2 separate regions of the Homo sapiens genome follow, and region 1 is linked to region 2. Evidence: fine-mapped expression QTL. A gene starts in region 2. The other region holds a variant in brackets. All regions are shown on one strand. Distances are between the middles of the regions. Region 1 holds the start of TTC38 (tetratricopeptide repeat domain 38). Region 2 holds the start of GTSE1-DT (GTSE1 divergent transcript).

What was found. PIP is the estimated chance that this variant, and not a neighbour inherited with it, causes the effect.
Region 1: its variant is fine-mapped to the expression of GTSE1-DT in esophagus muscle (GTEx, PIP 0.92).

What each region holds. Positions count from the first base shown.
Region 1 is chr22:46,266,234-46,271,603 of GRCh38, reverse strand. It overlaps TTC38 (tetratricopeptide repeat domain 38), which reads right to left and starts at 3,596. Exons shown (of 14, transcript NM_017931.4): 1 at 3,532-3,596; 2 at 3,013-3,090. The coding sequence starts at 3,564. RefSeq lists silencers at 3,320-3,529, 3,540-3,699. The variant C/T (reference allele first, on the strand shown) is at 2,863.
Region 2 is chr22:46,294,007-46,299,376 of GRCh38, reverse strand. GTSE1-DT (GTSE1 divergent transcript) reads left to right here and starts at 2,717. Exons shown (of 1, transcript NR_024009.1): 1 at 2,717-4,234. GTSE1 (G2 and S-phase expressed 1) reads right to left here and starts at 2,507. Exons shown (of 12, transcript NM_016426.7): 1 at 2,446-2,507; 2 at 1,898-1,997. The coding sequence starts at 1,976. It overlaps TTC38 (tetratricopeptide repeat domain 38), which reads right to left. Exons shown (of 14, transcript NM_017931.4): 14 at 5,369-5,370. RefSeq lists an enhancer at 1,990-2,099 and a silencer at 2,250-2,449.

The DNA of each region.
Region 1 (5,370 bases), 28 kb after region 2:
GAATCGCCTGAACCTGGGAGGTAGAGGTTGCAGTGAGCTGAGATCGTGCCACTGCACCCCAGCCTGGGTGACAGAGAAAAGGAAAAAAAAAGGCCAGGTGTGGTGGCTCATGCCTGTAAGCCCAGCACTTTGGGAGGCCGAGGTGGGCGGATCATGAGGTCAGGAGATCGAGACCATCCTGGCTAACACGGTGAAACCCCCGTCTCTACTAAAGATACAAAAAATCAGCCGGGTGTGGTGGTGGGCGCCTGTAATCCCAGCTACTCGGGAGGCTGAGGCAGGAGAATGGCGTGAACCCAGGCGCCACTGCACTCCAGCCTGGGCGACAGAGTGAGACTCTGTCTCAAAAAAGAAAAAAAAGAAAAAAGAAAAGAAAGAAAAGGCAGGTTCCTCCTGACAGGTGACCTGCTCCACATCGGCTTCTTCTGCCCTAAGAGGAGCCCTGAAGTTGGTCACGATAGGAATATTCCTGCTTCTTATTCATTCGTTTTAAAAATATTCACAGAAAACATTTATTTTAGAGAGTTAGAAAGACACAAAAGCTGAAAGATAAAACTTACCCAAAGCTCATTTTATCATTTTTTTTTTAATTGAGACAGAATCTTGCCCTGTCACCCAGGCTGGAGTGCAATGGCACGATCTTGGCTCACTGCAACCTCTGCCTCCAGGTTTCAAGCAATTCTCCTGCCTTGGTAGGAGAATCCCTCCTTAGTAGCTGGGATTACAGGTGTGCACCACTGCGCCCGGCTAATTTTTTTTTTTTCTTTTTTGAGATGGAGTCTTGCCCTGTCACCCAGGCTGGAAGGCAGTGGCACTATCTCAGCTCACTACAACCTCCACCTCCCTGGTTCAAGAATTCCTCTGCCTCAGCCTCCCGAGTAGCTGGGATTACAGGCCCATGCCACCATGCCCGGCTAATTTTTTTATATTTTTAGTAGAGACAGGGTTTCACCATGTTGGCCAGGCTGGTGTTGAACTCCTGACCTCAGATGATCCACCTGCCTCAGCCTCCCAAAGTGCTGGGATTACAGGCGTGAGTCACCGCGCCCAGCGCATCATCATTTTTAACAATTTGCTGTATTTGTACCTGGTCCTTTACTCAAATGCCTGTTTTAAAAAAAGTCCTAGACCTATAATCACACATTAGATTTTAAAATATGCCCTTTCAGCTGTCTAACCTACATCTACACAGAATTAGTACGTGTATTTTTTTTTTAAGACAGGGTTTGCTCTGTTGCCCAGGATGGAGTACAGTGGCACAATCACAGCTCACTTCAGTCTCAACCGCCCAGGCTCAAGCAATCCCCCTGCCTCAGCCTCCCAAATAGCTGAGACTATAAGCTACGCAAGCATTTTGACAAGATACAGGAGGGTTGGCACAGAGATTTAAAGAAGCCAAGTTCTAACACAGGACAGCACAGAGACACCAATACACGGGACAAAATATACCCAGGCTGGGAGGATGAGCTGCCACTGATTGGGGATGTGGTGTGTAACAAACTGAGTACTAGGGGCCGGGCACAGTGGCTCACGCCTGTAATCCCAGCACTTTGAGAGGCCAAGGCAGGGGAATCACAAGGTCAGGAGTTTGTGACCATCCTGACCAACATGGTGAAACCCCGTCTCTACTAAAGATACAAAAAATCAGCTGGGTATGATGGTGCGTGCCTATAATCCCAGCTACTTCGGAGGCTGAGGCAGGGCAATCGCTTGAACCCGAGAGGCAGAGTTTGCAGTGAGTCAAGACTGCGCCATTGCACTCCAGCCTGGGTGACAGGGCAAGACTCCGTCTCAAACAAAAAACAAATCGAGTACTCTACAGAGGCCGGCGAGATACAGGAAGGGCAAGTGAGCCAGGTCAAACACAAAATAAACAAACAACTCAGATGCCCACAGCAGAGTCCCTTGGCAGGGCAGGCTGGGAACAGGAGAGGCACCCATGGCGCAGCTCACAGCATTCCATCAGTCCTCTCTTGTTCAGCCCGTAGGCTTCTAAGAGCTACCTGAGTCCTCCTGTTATGTGGATGAAGTCAGTATGCAGGGGCCTCACCACCCACGCCAAGGTCAGCTTAGGTTTCTATCAGTGCAGTTAGGCCCAGGTTCATCCTGGTTCTGCCTGTAATTCATGGACAACCTTCAAGTCAAGTAGGTTCAACTCTGAGCCTCAGTTTCCCCACTTGTCAAGGAAGCTAGTTGGATCTTACTTCTGAGACTTCTCCTAGTTCTAAAACTATAGGACCCTTCATTGGTAGAGAAATGACTGGTAATGTGGCAGAAGGTCTTGGCACAGCCTAGGTGAAGGCAGTATACTCACAGATTCATCCCAGGACAGGATCCCACGTCCTAAGCAGCCGAGCCCTGCATCAGACCCTCAGCAGGCCACAATGGGAGGCCCGGGGAGGCCAGCATCCTCAAAAAACATCCCCACTGCACCCACCGCTGTCCACCCACCACTCAGAGTCCTGGGGAAGAAGGGAGAGTGCAGAGGCCCTTTTAGGACGCTGTGGGGGGGGGGCAGAGATATGTCCCCACCCTCCCACGTCCTCCAGTACAAAGTGCACAGATGTGCTGCCATCTATTGCTAAGGTCATGGCGCAATTTAAAAAGCTTTCCCCATGGCCGGGCGCGGTGGCTCACGCCTGTAATCCCAGCACTTTGGGAGGCCGAGGCGGGCGGATCACGAGGTCAGGAGATCGAGACCATCCTGGCTAACACGGTGAAACCCCGTCTCTACTAAAAAATACAAAAAAAATTAGTCGAGGGCAGTGGCGGGCGCCTGTAGTCCCAGCTACTCGGGAGGCTGAGGGACGAGAATGGCGTGAACCCGGGAGGCAAAGCTTGCAGTGAGCCGAAATAGCGCCA[C/T]TGCACTCCAGCCTGGGCGACAGAGCGAGACTCCGCCTCAAAAACAAAACAAAACAAAACAAAACAAAACAAAAAAACAGCTTTCCCCAATTAAAAAACCTTCCCCTAGACCTCCACAGAAGGGGCCGCGGCCTCTCTCGGCAGGCATACCTGGGTCAGCGTGGCATCGAACAGCTTGCAGGCTTCGTTGCTTGTGGTGGAGAGCGGGAGCCTCGCATCCTTCCAGGCCTACAGACGGCAAGAAGGGAATAGCAGTGCCTTCTCTCCAGGAGCCCTTCAAACTTCAACACACACACGTCTCCTGGCCCCTCTGACCTCCACCTTCCTCATCTGTAAAATGGGCTCAGGCTCCCAGTCCTGGGCCGGTTCCAAGGAGCCCCTTACCTTTGCGGGCTTCCCTGCGTCCCCAGCCATGCCCAGTGAGCTACGTTTTTTAGGAGGTCTTGGGGTCTCCCGAGTACCCTGACAGGCGTCCCTTATTTCCCTCGGTGGGGACTCTACAAGAAGGGCCTCGGGTCCCTTCCAGGCGTTGCCGCGGACGCGCCCGTGCGCCCAGGGCTCACCCCACGCCCCGCGCCCGGGCCATGTCTCCCGTTATTCCGCCAGCACCGGGCCACCCCCAGGACCCGGGGCCCGAGGGGGACCTGGTTGGGGGCAGCCTCCGTGTACCTGGCAGTCGCGCAGAGGCGAGGCTGCGGCCATGTTGCGCCGGGTCGGAGTCCACCGCGAGCTCTGGGCACCCGGGCCTTCCTGGGAGTGGGCGGGGCGGTCGCGGAAAGGGGCGGGGCGGGGCGGCCGCGCTCTCCCGCTCGCTCACTGGTGGGTTTCGGACAGACTGGCCCTGGTCCAGGATCCGGGCCCGCCCCAGAGGCCCGACCGGACAACTCTGCAACGCGACGGGTCCCTTGGGAGCAGGGAGCTCCGGGACAGCGGTCACTTTCAAGTTTATGTCGTTGCGGTCGGCAGCTACCCGCGCGCGCACGGCACACACTCACTTGGCGTTCGGGGCCGGCTTCACTGGGTCGTCCCGCCGCCTCCATCCTCCCTTCTCAAGGATTTGCAGCGGAAAAATCGCTCTGTCTCCTGCAGTAGCGGCTTCTCCCTCTGGACTGGCCCGGTCTGGCCCGGCCTGAACTCTGCCATCAGCCACACACCAGCCCCAGTCCAATGGGCTCCCCTAGTTTAATTTGCCCCCGCCCCAGGGTGCACGAATCAAGGGCGTAGAACCAAGTGCACGGGCAGATCTGGCCTTTATTTAAAATGCTATTTTGTTCATCATGGACTTTTTGCATTAGTTTTGATTTTTGAAATATTGCACTGAAGTATTATTTGTTTTATGTGAGAGCTGTAAAGATAAAACTCTTAGAAGAAAACAGAAGTAAATCTTCATGGCCTTGGATTTAGCAATGGATTCTTAGATGTAACACCAAAAGGACAAGCAACAACAACAAAATAGATAAGTTGGACTTCGTCAAAATTAAAAACTTTTCTGAATCAAAGGACACTACTCAGGAAACTGAAAAGATTAACACAATGGGAAAAAACATTTGTAAATCATATATTGGGTAAGAGTCTAGAATCCAGAATACATAAAGAAATCTTGGCCGGGCACAGCAGCTCATGTCTGTAATCCCAGCCCTTTGGGAGGCTGAGTCAGGTGGATCACCTGAGGTCAGGAGTTCAAGACCAGCCTGGCCAACATGGTGAAACCTTATCTCTATTAAAAGTACAAAAATAGCCAGGCGTGGTGGTGCATGCCTGTAATCCCAACTACTTGGGTGGCTGAGGCAGGAGAATCGCTTGAACCCGGGAAGTGGAGGTTGGAGTAAGCCAAGATTGTGCCACTGCACTCCAACCTGGGCAACAGAGCCAGACTCTGTCTCAAAAAAAAAGAATTCTTACAACTCAACAGCGAAATGACAAACAGCCCAAATTTAAAGTGGGCAAAGAATTTGAGGTGACAGTTCTCCAAAGAAGACACACCTTTCCTACAGCGTTTTCAAGGTTCATTCATACTGAAGGAAGAGGCAGACACAAAAGGTAACACTTGTATTAGTGCATTTACATGCATGTCCAGAATACGCAAACATAGAGACAGAAAGAAGATTGGTGGTGACCAGGGACTGAGGGGATAGGGATGATAAGTCACTGAAGCCTTGAACTCCTGGCTCCAGCAATCCTCCCACCTCAGCCTCCCATAAATGGTTACTTTTATGTGAACTTTACCTCAATAAAAGAGAATTTGTCTTGATTATTGAGTTTTTGGTGCCCCTCCACCCTTAAATTTTGCACTTGAGCTGAGTACTAATATGGACTAATACAGTAAATTGGTACCATTAGAGTGGGGTGTTGCCAAAAATATACCTGAAAATGTGGAAGCAACTTTGGAACTGGGTAACAGGCAGAGGTTGGAACAGTTTGGAGGGCTCAGAAGACAGGAGTATGTGGGAAATTTTGGAACTTCCCAGATACTTGTTGAATGGCTTTGCCCAAAATGCTGATAGTGAT
Region 2 (5,370 bases):
GCCCAGAGCTCGGAGGAGAGGCTGCGCTCAAGACAAAACGTGGGTGCCGCAGAGAGCAGATACGCTGCACAGCTATTGGAATGCTGACCGCCCTGAGGGCGAAAGCACAAAGCGGTCCCAGAGCAGGTCTTGGGGAAATCAGCCTCAGAAGACAGCAGAGGGGGAGCCCCCGACAGAGAAAAGATACACCAGCCAGAGAGGCAGGAGGAAAAAACCAAGAGCGTCTTGGACTCCAAGCAAGGGAAGTTTCCAGAAGGACGAATGTTACTGAAAAGCTGACTGGCGATAGAAAAGTGAAAAGAGATTCAGCAATGTGGAAGTCGTCAACGACTGATGAAAGCAGCTTGAATGGAGTGGTAAGGACAGAAGCCGGAATGGGAGGGATTGAGAGGCGGAAAAAAATGGCATAACAAGTGAGAAAGCTCTCAAAGTTTGGCTTGGAAGGAGAAACACAGCAATGGAGAGGCAACGGAGGAGACGTGGCGACAAGTGAGACAAGGGAACATTATCTGTATGTGGATGCGCATGATCCAGTAGTGGACAGGGGAAAAGTAAGGAAATGAAGTCAGGTCAACGGAAGTGGGGAAGGCCTCAAGAAGGAGCAGGGGGTGCAGTATGCACGTGGAAAGGACATATTTGAAAGGAAGGACATGACAGGAAGGAGGAGAGGGGTGCAGAGGCAAGCGCCTTGCTAGATATGAAGATGCAACATTGATTTGTAAAGTCTCCAGGACAGTTCCTGCAAAATGGAGGCATTGAGGATGCTTGGGGCCAGGCGCGGTGGTTCACACCTGTAATCCCAGTACTTTGGGAGGCCTAGGCAGGTGGATCACCTGAGGTCAGGAGTTTGAGACCAGCCTGGCCAACATGGTAAAACCCCATCTCTACTAAAAATACAAAAATCAGCCAGGTGTGGTGGCGGGTGCCTGTAATCCCAGCTACTCGGGAGGCTGAGGCAGGAGAATCGCTTGAACCCGAAAGGCAGAGGTTGCAGTGAGCCAAGATCATGCCACTGCACTCCAGCCTGGGAGACAGAGTGAGACTTGGTCTCAAAAAGAAAGGATCCTTGGGTAGTGTGAGAAAACTACCCAAGGGATGTCAAAATGCTTTGTGAGGCTGGGTGAGGTGGCTCACACCTATAATCCTAGCACTTTGGGAGGCCGAGGCAGGCAGATTGCCTGAGCTCAGGAGTTCGAGACCAGCCTGGGCAACATGGCAAAACCCCGTCTCTGTTAAAAATACAAAAATGAGCCAGGTGTGGCAGCGGGTGCCTGTAATCCCAGTTACTAGGGAGGCTGAGGCAGGAGAATCCCTTCAACTCAGGAGAGAGAGGTTGCAGTGAGTACAGATCACGCCTTTGCACTCCAGCCTGGGTGAGAGAGCGAGACTCCGTCAATAAATAAATAAATAAATAAATAAAAACGCTTTGAGAGAAAAAGAGGGTGTGGCCTGTAACTCATTCTGTGAAGCTGTACCCTCACCTTGATACCCAAACCAGTCAAAGACACAAGAAGAAAGGGGTTTGGGGCCAGGCTTACTCATTAACATGGTCTCAAAGATCCTAAATAAGTCTTAGCAAACAGAAACCAGCGACAAACAAAAAAGAAAACATCGAATTCAATACAATAAATATTTGAGAGCCCACAAAGTGTTAGGTGCTGTTCAGGGCATGGGAGCACTGCGGTAAATAAAACGGATGAGAATCCTGGCTGTGATGAAACTTAAAATGGGGAGGAGGTGAAAGAAAACCAGAAAACGAAGGCAGATGTCATGTGTTTCACAGGTGCAGAGTACAAGTCGAGCACTTGAGAAAGAATTTCTCAGGGAAACATTAAATCACCCTCCATCTCTACTGAACATCCTGAACAACAACAGCGCCGCAGCAGCAAGGACTTGCCTTCCTTCTTAGGGTCATCCATGTTCACGTCCCCTGCCCGGCAGGCTGAAGGCTCATCGCGGCCGCCGCCTCCTTCCATGGAGAGAGCTGTCAGAAGTCACTGCAGGGTGGAACGGGGCCAGAAAGTGAGTACGTGTCAGGGCCCAGGGCTCCGGCTTCCTTCAGCCCTCGGCTCACAGAGGCAGAGAGAGCTGAAGGCCGCGGCCAGGTCTGGGAGAGGCGGCGCGGGGGCCGCTCTGAAATGATCGCATCCCAGGGGACCCCAGGGCCCGAGTGCCGCCAGGCCGGGAGTCAGCCCGAACGCCATCAGACGAGATAACGGAATTCTCGGCTTCTGGGCCAGAGTGTTGGGGGCTCTGTTTGCCTGGGGGGCAGCCCTAGACCTCCCGGCATCCCCGACCACGGCGCGAGGGGCCTCAGTGACCCCTGCTCGAGCCCAGGCCCGGCTCCTGGCGGGGCGCGGCCCCTCCCCGTCCCGAAAACGGCGGGCACCGCGCCGCACCGGGCCCACCGGGCAAGCCTCGCCCCCGACCCTGACCCCACCTTACCCAAAGCGGCAGACGATGCAGGACGCGCCTCCGGCACGGATTTAAACGCGGCGCCGGGAGACGCGGGTTGCCGATTGGTCGGTTTGAAAAGGGCTCCGAGAGGCGGCGGGCTGGGTGCGTCCTGGGTATTGTAGTCAGGACGCTGGTAAGAAGCGTCCAGTGCGCATGCGCACTGCTTCAGCGCAGCGAATGGCTCCGCACAGCGCCAGGGATCACCCACCCGGAAGTCTGCCCGGCCTGGCCGCCAAGTGTCACTAGGTATCCGCGTCAAGCCGGAACCATGTATAGCAGCTCCTTGTGTGTAGGGAGAAAGTTAAAACTGCCATCTAAGGGTGTCGATGGGAAGACTAAAAGTAGGCTCACCCACCTGCTGTGAAGCAGCGCGCGCGAGCTGTTACTAACAGTAGTGAAAAGCCGGGATCCCTGCCCCCGAGGCACGCACTGGGGCGCCGGCTGACCCAGAGACCTGAGGGAGACTCATTGCCGGAGCTGCACAGCCTGTGGGGCTGGAGGGGAACCGTCGCCCTTGGCGGGCTTCCCCAACCGCCAAGGCCTGAGGACCGCCGAGGGCGTGGCGGGAGCCTGTCCTCGGTTTTACAGGCCGGCTGGGGAGCTGCGTTGGAGGAGAGAGCCAGGGGCTGGGGCCCGGTGATGGAGCCTGCCTTGGGGAGTGCATGTGTTGGAGAGAGGTGGGAAGCAGATAGGATAACCCTGACCTGAGCCATGGAGACGCAAGGACAGGACTGGTAGACGGGTCAGTGGGCAGCAACTTAAGACTGACCTCGCTTGAGCCTTTGCCTGCGAACGAGGTATAATACCCACCTCGGGGGCTTGAGGATCAAATGAGGGGCTCCACCCACGGCAAAGTGTCACTAAGCGGGATGGAGGAGGATGCAGGAAGAGGAGTCTGGGAGGACCCGCTCTGAAAAGGATGGAACTCGAGAGCACCATTTTCAGGGACGAAGATAAGCTGTTTATTTGGGGCAGGCTGTGGGGAGAGCTGTGCAGCAAACAGCCACCCGGGGCCCAGGGCAGAGGCCTTCCAGGCTGGCTCGGGCACTTCTGGGTCCCATGTCCCTGGTTTTGCATCATCCATACCAATCACTCCATGTTGCTATGTTCCTTCACCAGAAGACTGGGGGCTCAAAAAGGGCAGGGCAGCCCTCACTCACCAGTCTCCCCAGCCTCACCCAGCTCAGCACAGGGCACCAGGCAGGGGCTGAGAGTGCTGGGGTAGGTGGGTGTGGTCAAACAGCTTGGAAAGAGTTTGGCCTGCTCATTGCATTCCCCTCAGCTCATCCTGGGGATGTCTGCTCATGGGAGAATGGCAGAGGGATCCCCAACAGTCATTCCTGATACTCCTCTCCCTGTATCATGTCAGCACATAGTAGGTGTGGCCTATGTATGGCAGATTCATTTCTGCCCCCAATAGGATTTGCTGTAGTTTGGATGTGTGTCCCCTCAAAATCTCATGTTGAAATGTGATCCCAATGTTGGAAGTGGGGCCTGGTGGGAAGTAATTGGGTCGTGAGGGCAGATCCCTTATGAATGGTTCAGCACCATCCCCTTGGTGATGAGTTCTTGCTTAGTTCACACAAGATCTGGTTATTTAAGAGTCTAAGACCTCCCCTTCTCTCTTACTCCTGCTCTCACTATGTGATATACTGGCTCCCCATCACCTTATGTCATGATCTTAAGCTTCCTGAGGTTGCACCAGAAGCAGATGCCAGCACCATACTTCCTGAAAAGCCTGCAGAACTGTGAGCCAATTAAACCTCTTTATAAATTACCTAGCGTCAGGTATTTCTTCATAGCAATGCAAGAAGGCCTAATACAGAGTTTGACTTCATTTATTTATGCCTTCATTCACCAACTTTCACTGACAGCTACTCAGTGCAGGCCATGTGCCAGGTGATGCTGGGGACAGATGCTGTCCCTGACCTGGAGAGGTCATGGCAGGGGTGCAAGAGCAAGGGCAAGTGCCAAGGGCTGAGGGGCACAGAGGCAGCACCCTCACCAGCCTGCAGTGGGGGTTGGCGGGTAGAAGGCTTCCTGGAGGAGGGACCAGGGTTCCCAATTGCACAGCCAAGTCATGTCTTCTTGCTTGGAACCAGGAGAGGGGAAGGAGGCTCCCCTTAGGATGTGTCCCTAGTTCTTGGGTAGAGAAGGCGCCTCTCTGGAAATACTACTATAATTACCCCTTTTCTTTCTTTCTTTTTTTTTTTTTTTGAGACGGAGTCTTGCTTTGTCGCCCAGGCTGGAGTGCAGTGGCGCGATCTCCGCTCACTGCAAGCTCTGCCTCCCGGGTTCACGCCATTCTCCTGCCTCAGCCTCCCGAGTAGCTGGGACTACAGGCGCCCACCACCATGCCCGGCTAATTTTTTGTATTTTTAATAGAGATGGGGTTTCACCGTGTTAGCCAGGATGGTCTTGATCTCCTGACCTCGTGATCTACCTGCCTCAGCCTCCCAAAGTGCTGGGATTACAGACGTGAGCCACTGCGCCCGACCTCCCATTTTCTTGACTAGATGCCCCACCTACTTTTTTTTTTTTTTCCCTTGAGATGGGAGTCTCGCTCTGTTGCCCAGACTGCAGTGCAATGGCACGATCTTGGCTCACTGCAATCACTGCCTCCCAGGTTCAAGTGATTCTCCTGCCTCAGCCTCCCGAGTAGCTGGGATTACAGACGTGTGCCACCATGCTCAGCTAATTTTTGTATTTTCAGTAGACACAGGGTTTCACCATGTTGGCCAGGCTGATCTCGAACTCCTGACATCAGGGGATCCACCCACCTCAGCCTCCCAAAGTGGTGGGATTACAGGCGTGAGCCACTGCGCCTGGCCTGCCCCACCTACCTTAAGTTCAAGGAGAAGCCATCTCCCCAGGACCCAGCCCCAGGCCTGCACCACAGATGCTCAAAGACTT